Homo sapiens: one gene and its partner. The protein of the gene in region 2 interacts with the protein of the main gene of each other region in a biochemical or structural test. Each region holds a gene or a part of one and is shown on either strand. Other genes may lie near its edges. The genes, in order: FBXO7 and DNAJB12.

The links.
Region 1: of the proteins of DNAJB12 (region 2) and FBXO7, one has a biochemical effect on the other in vitro, tested with the Homo sapiens proteins (one large-scale study listed by BioGRID).

What each region holds. Positions count from the first base shown.
Region 1 is NC_000022.11:32,484,811-32,488,626, forward strand, and holds part of FBXO7 (F-box only protein 7), read left to right. Parts: intron 1-257; coding exon 258-399; intron 400-2,934; coding exon 2,935-3,018; intron 3,019-3,816. UniProt on the Homo sapiens protein: Substrate recognition component of a SCF (SKP1-CUL1-F-box protein) E3 ubiquitin-protein ligase complex which mediates the ubiquitination and subsequent proteasomal degradation of target proteins and plays a role in several biological processes such as cell cycle, cell proliferation, or maintenance of chromosome stability.
Region 2 is NC_000010.11:72,341,379-72,345,194, forward strand, and holds part of DNAJB12 (dnaJ homolog subfamily B member 12), read right to left. Parts: intron 3,750-3,816; coding exon 3,572-3,749; intron 2,134-3,571; coding exon 1,988-2,133; intron 1-1,987. UniProt on the Homo sapiens protein: Acts as a co-chaperone with HSPA8/Hsc70; required to promote protein folding and trafficking, prevent aggregation of client proteins, and promote unfolded proteins to endoplasmic reticulum-associated degradation (ERAD) pathway.

The DNA of each region.
Region 1 (3,816 bases), on a different chromosome or scaffold from region 2:
TCAATCCCTGTTTCCATGATGCAGTTTTACCTATTTGAACAAAAATTTTGATTAAAAGTGTTCTAATATATTATCTTATACAATATGGTTATCCTACAATATAAAATATATTGGCAATGTTAATGATTTGATGCATTTTATTAAGAGGACTGTGTGGAGTGATTATTTCAAACAAGTTAGGAGTCTTTTGGATTTTTAATCTTTTTGAGAGTAACACCTTTCTTCATTATTTGTTTCCCTTTCATTTCGTTCCCCAGGGCACCGAAGCCAAAGCACTGTCCATGCCGGAGAAGTGGAAGTTGAGCGGGGTGTATAAGCTGCAGTACATGCATCCTCTCTGCGAGGGCAGCTCCGCTACTCTCACCTGTGTGCCTTTGGGAAACCTGATTGTTGTAAATGGTAATTGGATAGCATAGTCATGGTTGCTGGTTTATGGATTCTTAGACGTTTCTTTCCAAATGTTTTATAGCCACTTCAGTGATTGGCTATCATGATACAGTTGTGAGTCCTTCTCAACTGTATTTAATTCCTAGGCCACTGATAACATGTGTCTGGAAGATCATGGAATATGAGGTTGTTGAGTTGTTTAGGCCAGCACCCTTCATTCTTAGGGCATCCATTTTTTTGATGTCTTAATCTTTGTAATATTTTGCTCTGGGGGATAATATTTAATATTATCCAATATTATCAGTATTTGATAATAGGAGTGAAATGAGCCTATTACACATGAACTCCTTGGAGAATACTTTTTCTTTATGCCTGTGGATGGCTTTATTTTTTTAACGAAGGTCTTGAACTGAGACATGGGGAGCTAGACCTGGGGTCACCATTTATCCAAGTTGGCATCCCTGTGACCAGCAATGCACAACAACAATGCTAAGTTTACTGGGGCCTTAGTAAGTATGTGTTTTATTTGCTGGGCCTCCCCCAACAAATGTCACTCTGTATGAATAACTTTTCCTGTTTATTTTTCATATTAAGAAATTTCACTGGAATAGCAATGCATTCCATCTCTGTGTTTTAGTTCAGGTACCACTTTGTTTCATATCAACTCCTAGTGTTCTGTCATAATCACACATACTGGAGATCCATTTGAATGACTAGGAGCTTTCATTTTTGTTCTGTTTTGTTTTTTGAGATTTATCCTTTTAGTTAGAAAGATAGCGTGGTAAGATTGGGAGGGCTGCGTTTGTTGTTTTTTTATTCAGTATAGCTCATCTTTTTCGTTTAGCAAAGGCAGTTGCTTTGGTAAGCCTTAGGTCAAAGGTTTAGGTCAGAGGTTTTCAGTATGTTCTGTAGCTACTCCTTTCTGCTGAGATGAAAGTTAGGTAGAAGCCCTATCACCACTTAAACCTTGAGCAGCAAAATGTTTATCTGTTTCATTTATTGAAGTTCTGTGTAAGATTCTGTTTGAAAAAATGTTGGTTTTTTTTTTTCCTGCTAAAATCTATTTTGAAAGCTACTGACTCATGCCATCTTGATCTTTGACATGTTGGATAGTTCTCATTCCCCTCTTACAAAGTTTCTTTTTTCTTTTTTTTGAGACAGGGTCTTGCTCTGTCGCCCAGGCTGGAGTGCAGTAGGCAGAGCATGGATCATTGCATCCTTGACCTCCTAGGCTCAAGCAGTCTTCCTCCTTGGCCTCCTGAGTAGCTAGGACCACAGGCGTGTACCACCACACCTGGCTATTTTTTATTTTATTTTTTGTAGAGATGAAGTGTCACTGTGTTGCCCAGGCTGGTCTCAAACTCCTGGGTTTGAAGCAATATTCCTGCCTTGACTTCCCAAAGTGCTGGGATTACAGGTGTGAACCATGCCTGGCCTCTTACGAAATTTCTATTTCTTTAGTCATAAGATTCTTTGAAATGTTATTTAAAAGTCTCAAAACTAGGTTTAATAGCTTTGGTGGTACTTCACATTTGTCAGGACATGACTGTCTGATGACACTAGGACCTAGCAATGTCTATTCAGCAGTTCATCATAATTAGCAAATGTAGCTTTTACTTTGGCATTCTTGTACACAGAGTGTCAACAGTTTCTGCCTTCATCTAATCATTCTGCTACATCACATCATAACTTGCAAGGTTGGAGTTACCAAATAGTAAATGTGTAGTTGCAAATTTTGCCTTGATTTTTTATAAAAGCACTTAATGACGTGTATAATAACCTCTATTCACTAGATTCAGGATACTTAATATAAAAAGAATAACTGCTGAATGTCTTGATGATTTCCTAATTTCTGATGTTTTGTTTCTTTACTGTTCTTGGCAAATCAGCTCTTGGCAGACTTGCATGGCAGCCAGCCGTTCCAGGATTGATTCTTTGAAAAGGAGCAGTGTGTCTTTAAATCTTTCCTTCACCCAAGGCATCCTGCTTGGTGCACATGTGCATAAGCACATCACTGGGCTCTTTCATGGAATGAGATGAAGTGCGCCTTTGTATACATGATTAAAATTGAACCCTCTGGTGATGTCAAGTATATTTATCCTTTGGGTCTGGAAGAGAGATGATGCTGTGAAAACTAGCAAGATTATTTTAATGAACAAAGGAAGACTCATTGCCAAGGGTTAAATAAAAAATAAATGGAGTTTTTAGTGACTTCATTAGAAATAATGATTTTATTGTGTTTAGTTGCCTCTGATTAACCTTGTTGCATATCTTTAAGTTACTAATAAGCTGCTGCCTAGTGGATTTTATATAAAGATGCTTACTGTAGTTTTTAAAGGTGGTGTTGTAGAGTGATTTTACTTCATGTGATGCCAGGTTTACACTTTTGAACTTGCTATCAGAGAAAGAAATAGGCGAAGAACAGTTTGTTTTGTATAATGTGTCCTTAGTATATTAGGAGCTAGGAAATGCAAGCCCATACTAAAAAAGAAAGGCAGTTGATGAAGTGACAGAATTCTTTATCATCTTTCTTTTGTTTATTTACAGCTACACTAAAAATCAACAATGAGATTAGAAGTGTGAAAAGATTGCAGCTGCTACCAGAATCTTTTATTTGCAAAGAGAAACTAGGTAATACAAACATTATTTAACTTTTGGGGTGAAACTCTGTGAAATTCATATAAGAAAAAAATCTGAAAGATAATGTTCAAAAGACTGAAAATTTCTATATGAGATTAAAGCATATTGAAGACAATGTGGTTTGTTTAAGAATGCAAAGGTTTAAAAAATGTGAAAGTTTTGCTTATAATTTGAGGAGTTTGTTTCTTTCCTGTTTTTCTTAGGGTCATAGTGTGCTGAATTATATTGTTATGAGATAACACTAGTATGTAATTTATTACACTCTGATGATAGTTCATAGTTTCTGTACTAATCTTTGGAGATCTCCCTATTGAGATCTCCATATTGGTATTTAACCAATATGGAGGGGATCTGTGTTTCATGAAAGTAATTCAATGTCAAGTTCATTATTGAAGATTATTGGAGGAAAAACTACAATCAAAATGTTTGTTTAAACCTATATAAATTTGATGGCTATTTTATACAGATTGATACTTTACCAAAGGTTTGCATTCTAGGTAAGGTTTTGCTTAAACTCTATAAAATTATTAATAGATACAAAGAAGACAGGTTTTCCCTTTTATCATTTTTCAGTTAAACCAAACTGTGAGAGGCAGTTATAGGTGGTTGGAGCAGAAGAGATAAGGTGGAGAGGGGAACTGACATTTTTTAAGTGCCTGTTTCATTCTGTACTTGTGCCTGTACATATGTTATTCCATTTAATCTTCTTAGTAAACTTAGGAGGGTTTTAAGAGCCTAGTGGGAATGTTGTGGTACAATGGGAAGATGGCATTTATAGCAGTCCTTTAG
Region 2 (3,816 bases):
TAACACAGGCTCCTTGTTCTCCTCAAGACAATGGTCAAGCTTTGTCAATGTGCCAGGCCTCCTAGGAGTGTGGCCTCATTTACTTCTTTTTGTTTGTTTATTTTATTTTTTGAGGCAGGGCCTCACTCTGTCACCCAAGCTGAGTGCAGTGGAGCAACCGTGGCTCACTGCAGTCTCAACTTCCTTTGCTCAAGCGATCCTCCCACCTCAGCCTCCTGAGTAGCTGGGACTACAGGCGTGAACCACCACACTCAGCTAATTTTTTGTATTTTTTGTAGAGATGAGGTCTTGCCAAGTTGCCCAGGCTGGTCTCAAACTCCTGGGCTCAAGGGATCCTCCCACCTTGGCCTCCCAAAGTGCTGGGATTATAGACATAAGCCACCACACCAGGTCAACTCATTTACCTCTAAGAGCAACCCTATCTCCATTTCACCAATGAGAAAACTGAGGCTCAGAGAAGTGACTGCCTAAGCTTACACAGCTTTAATATGTTACAGAGCTGGGAGTCAAACAAAAGCAGGTGTCTCTTGCTTCAAGTTCTCTCTCCGACTTTATGAAAACCACCAAAAACCTCTTTCCTCATTCTCTCTTGACGTGCCCAATAGGATGGGCATCCCTTTCTGGAGGTTCTGTAAACCTGAAGTCATAGTCTGACATGCAGGCCAGACAGACACACAATATCCTTATTGTGAACTGGAAAGCAGCAGGAGCTGTGGGGAAGGGCCAAATCTCGGGGCTCTATGGAGACTCCTCCACTTCTGGTGATGCAGCTGGGGTGAGTCCCCCACTCTCTGGGGTCCAGGCCCCAACCGTTATTTCCTATCTGGGCCTGGAGCCTCCCACCAGGGCCCCCTAGCCGGGACGGCTGTGCCCTGAAGGACCCCAGCTCTGACCTCCTCAGTCTCTCACTCCCTCTCCTCAAGCTGCCACTGACTCCGAGGAGTGGGTCCAAGCCACATCTGATTCCCATCCTGAAACCCCCGGGAATAAGGAGCGCGGAATCGTCTCCTCCGCCAATTCTGAATAGGCCTCAAGGCCAGAGCTGGCCTCTCGGTACAGTCGGAGCAGGCTGCAGGCAGAGGCTGGGGCTGGAGAAACATTCAACAGGGCTACCTTGCTTCCCCCCACTCCCACTCTCCTCCTCCAGGGCCCCGGGACACTGCACACCAGGTCTCGGAGTCTCCTCTGCCACAGGCTCTCCAGCTGGCTATGGTTGTGGGTGCAGCACAGCACACACCCCGCCCAGGCCAGTGGGGGCTAGTCACCATGCTATTTCCCAAGGAGGTGGATGAAGTGGGAATGAGAGAAGGAAGACATGGTGGGAATGAGAGAAGGCAGTAATGTTTGGGGCAATGAGAAATTGCAGTGCACAGAGTCAGTACACATGAGCGCCTGACAGGTTAAATGAAAATGTAATGAATAAAGGGCAGCTTACGATTTCAGCCAGAAATGAAGCACCCATCCTGAGCCAGTGGGCCCTGAAGCCAGAGACTGCCATGTCCCCACTGCAAGCCCCAGGTGTATAGGTATGGCGGGGGAGCTGGCTGTGGCTGCTGGTATTGAGGTGGCCACCAGGCCTGAGGCCCCCGACCTGGGGCTACCCTGCCCCTCAGCAGGGAAACAGTTACCCCAGTGGGCAGCTATGAGACTCTAAGACAGGGAAGCGCACACGGTGAGTCACTCAATCACTGAGAATCCTTGGAGAAGCTACTAGAACTTTCCTGCCTCAGCTCTACTACGTAACCCCAGGAAATGCAGAGGAAGCAGGGGCAGGAATGGTGCTATCTGAGCTCTGACCAACTCTACATAGCTAGAGGTGGCTACTAGAACCTTTTTCCCAAGAAGCAGCTCCCAAGCCTGGGCAACTTGGGCCCAAGGCCACTTCCTCCTGCTCCCTGCTTCCTGGGAAAGCTGTCTTGGTCCCTTACTCCCTGCCATGGACAGGAGATGAACACACCAAAATGCTAGGAAAGCAGGGCTGGCTTACCTTTGAAGGCTTCAGTGGCACCAGGTGCGTGGTTCTTGTCTGGGTGGAATTTGAGGGCCAGTCTGCGGTAGGCCTTCTTCAGGTCCTCATCCGAGGCCCCTCTGCTCACCCCCAGGATCTCATAGTAATCTTTACATTGCTTGACCCTGGGGAAGGAGGAGACCATGGTACGGGGTGCTCTACATGGGTCTGTGTGAGGGGGGCGATGAACAGGCCGTGTGGGGCGCACAGCTCTGGGCAGGCTGCGGGGGACCAACAGGGCAAGGCTGACAGCTCCTTGGGTCAGCTGTGTGACACCAGGGACAAGGGAGCCAAGTGGGCACCAAATGTGATGCAGAGCTGGGCAGGACCACGGGAAACAGAAGAACACCGTCTGGATTCTTGGATTTAGGAGGGCATCTGTGGGGTTCGCCAGGCCAGTATCTATCTTCCCCATGGGAAGAGCTCAGGAGGACTGTCGGTGTCCATCACCCAGGGTGGTGTCCCAAGCTCAGCCAACCGACTCTCCTGGCAATCTGAGTCTTTTTTTTTTTTTAATTTTTAAAAGTTTTTAAAATGTTAAATATTTAAAGATAGAGACAGGGTCTTCTAATTGCCCAGGCTGGTCTCAAACTCCTGGGCTCAAGGGATCCTCCTGTCTCAGCCCCCCAAAGTGCTAGGATGACAGGCATGAGCCACCATGCTCAGCCCAATCTGAGTCTTGAGTGGGTAACATGAAGGCCAGAAGTGGCAGGTGACTGTTCACCGCAAGCACAGGGCCTAAAGAGACCCTGGTTCTCTTTCACCAATTCTTCCTCTCCGCGTCCCTGGAGACCTCCTGGTTCTTGGCCGTTTCTAGGCCTTCCCAATCCCTCATACATCAGTTTCTATTGCCTACAATGGACCTTGCCGACTCAGTGAAGTACAGATCTCGCCTACACTTTTATGGCAAACAGCAGTCATGCTCAGTCTCACACAGGCGGCCTTGGTCCTGAAGCTTGCCAGGAGCTGTGGCATGACCCTGGGGGATTCCCAAGGCCAGCTGCTGGGAGACCTGGGGAGAAATGGGAGCTGGGAACGTCTAAGCCTGAGGAGCCTTGGCTGGGTGGTCTCTGGCCTGGTAGCGAGCTACTCTGCGTGGGGCCTGCTCACAGCCGTGGGGCAATAACTCTGCCTCTGGTCTCCATTCTACCCCACACAGGCTCTGATCTAAAAGGGTCTTTGTTGGGTGCTGGGATGTGGGTTGGGGTAGAATCTGGAGGGGGAGACAAAGCTCCATCTCTATTGACAAACAGAGCTGTGTAAAGAGGCCTGGGGCCTGCCTGGCCAGCGGCAGAGGAAGCCGGCAGTGTCAGCTTTTCCAGCCTCTGCTGTGGGTCGTGGCGGGAGGGGTGGTGGAGCCCCAGTTCCCACACTGTATTCCTGGGCCTTGAGGGAAATAAGGAGAGGTCCTGGTGAGCCTGGACCCTTGGACCTTCTCCATCCTCCAAGACCCTCCCAGGGCCCTGTGCTGCCCACAGGCAGATGGGAGGTGGAGGACATGCTCCAGGAAGCCTCTAGATTTCCCCAGTCTCCCCAGGCTCCAGCCCCTGCCCACCCATCTACCTTTTCACAGCTGCAACCTGTTCTGCAGTGTAGCCTTTGGTGCTCTCTCCTCCAGCTTCACCGTTGGCCGAGGGGGCATCGGTCCCACCTGCTTTCCTGTGGGTGGCATGGGTTGTGTCTGTGGGTGGGGGTTGGTCACCGGCAGTCTGTGGTTTCTGGTTGAGGGACTCAATCAGGGCTGTGCAAGGCAAGGAAACCATTCAGAGCTCCTGCTCAAGCAGGCTGCGTGCCTCGCCGAGCGGCCC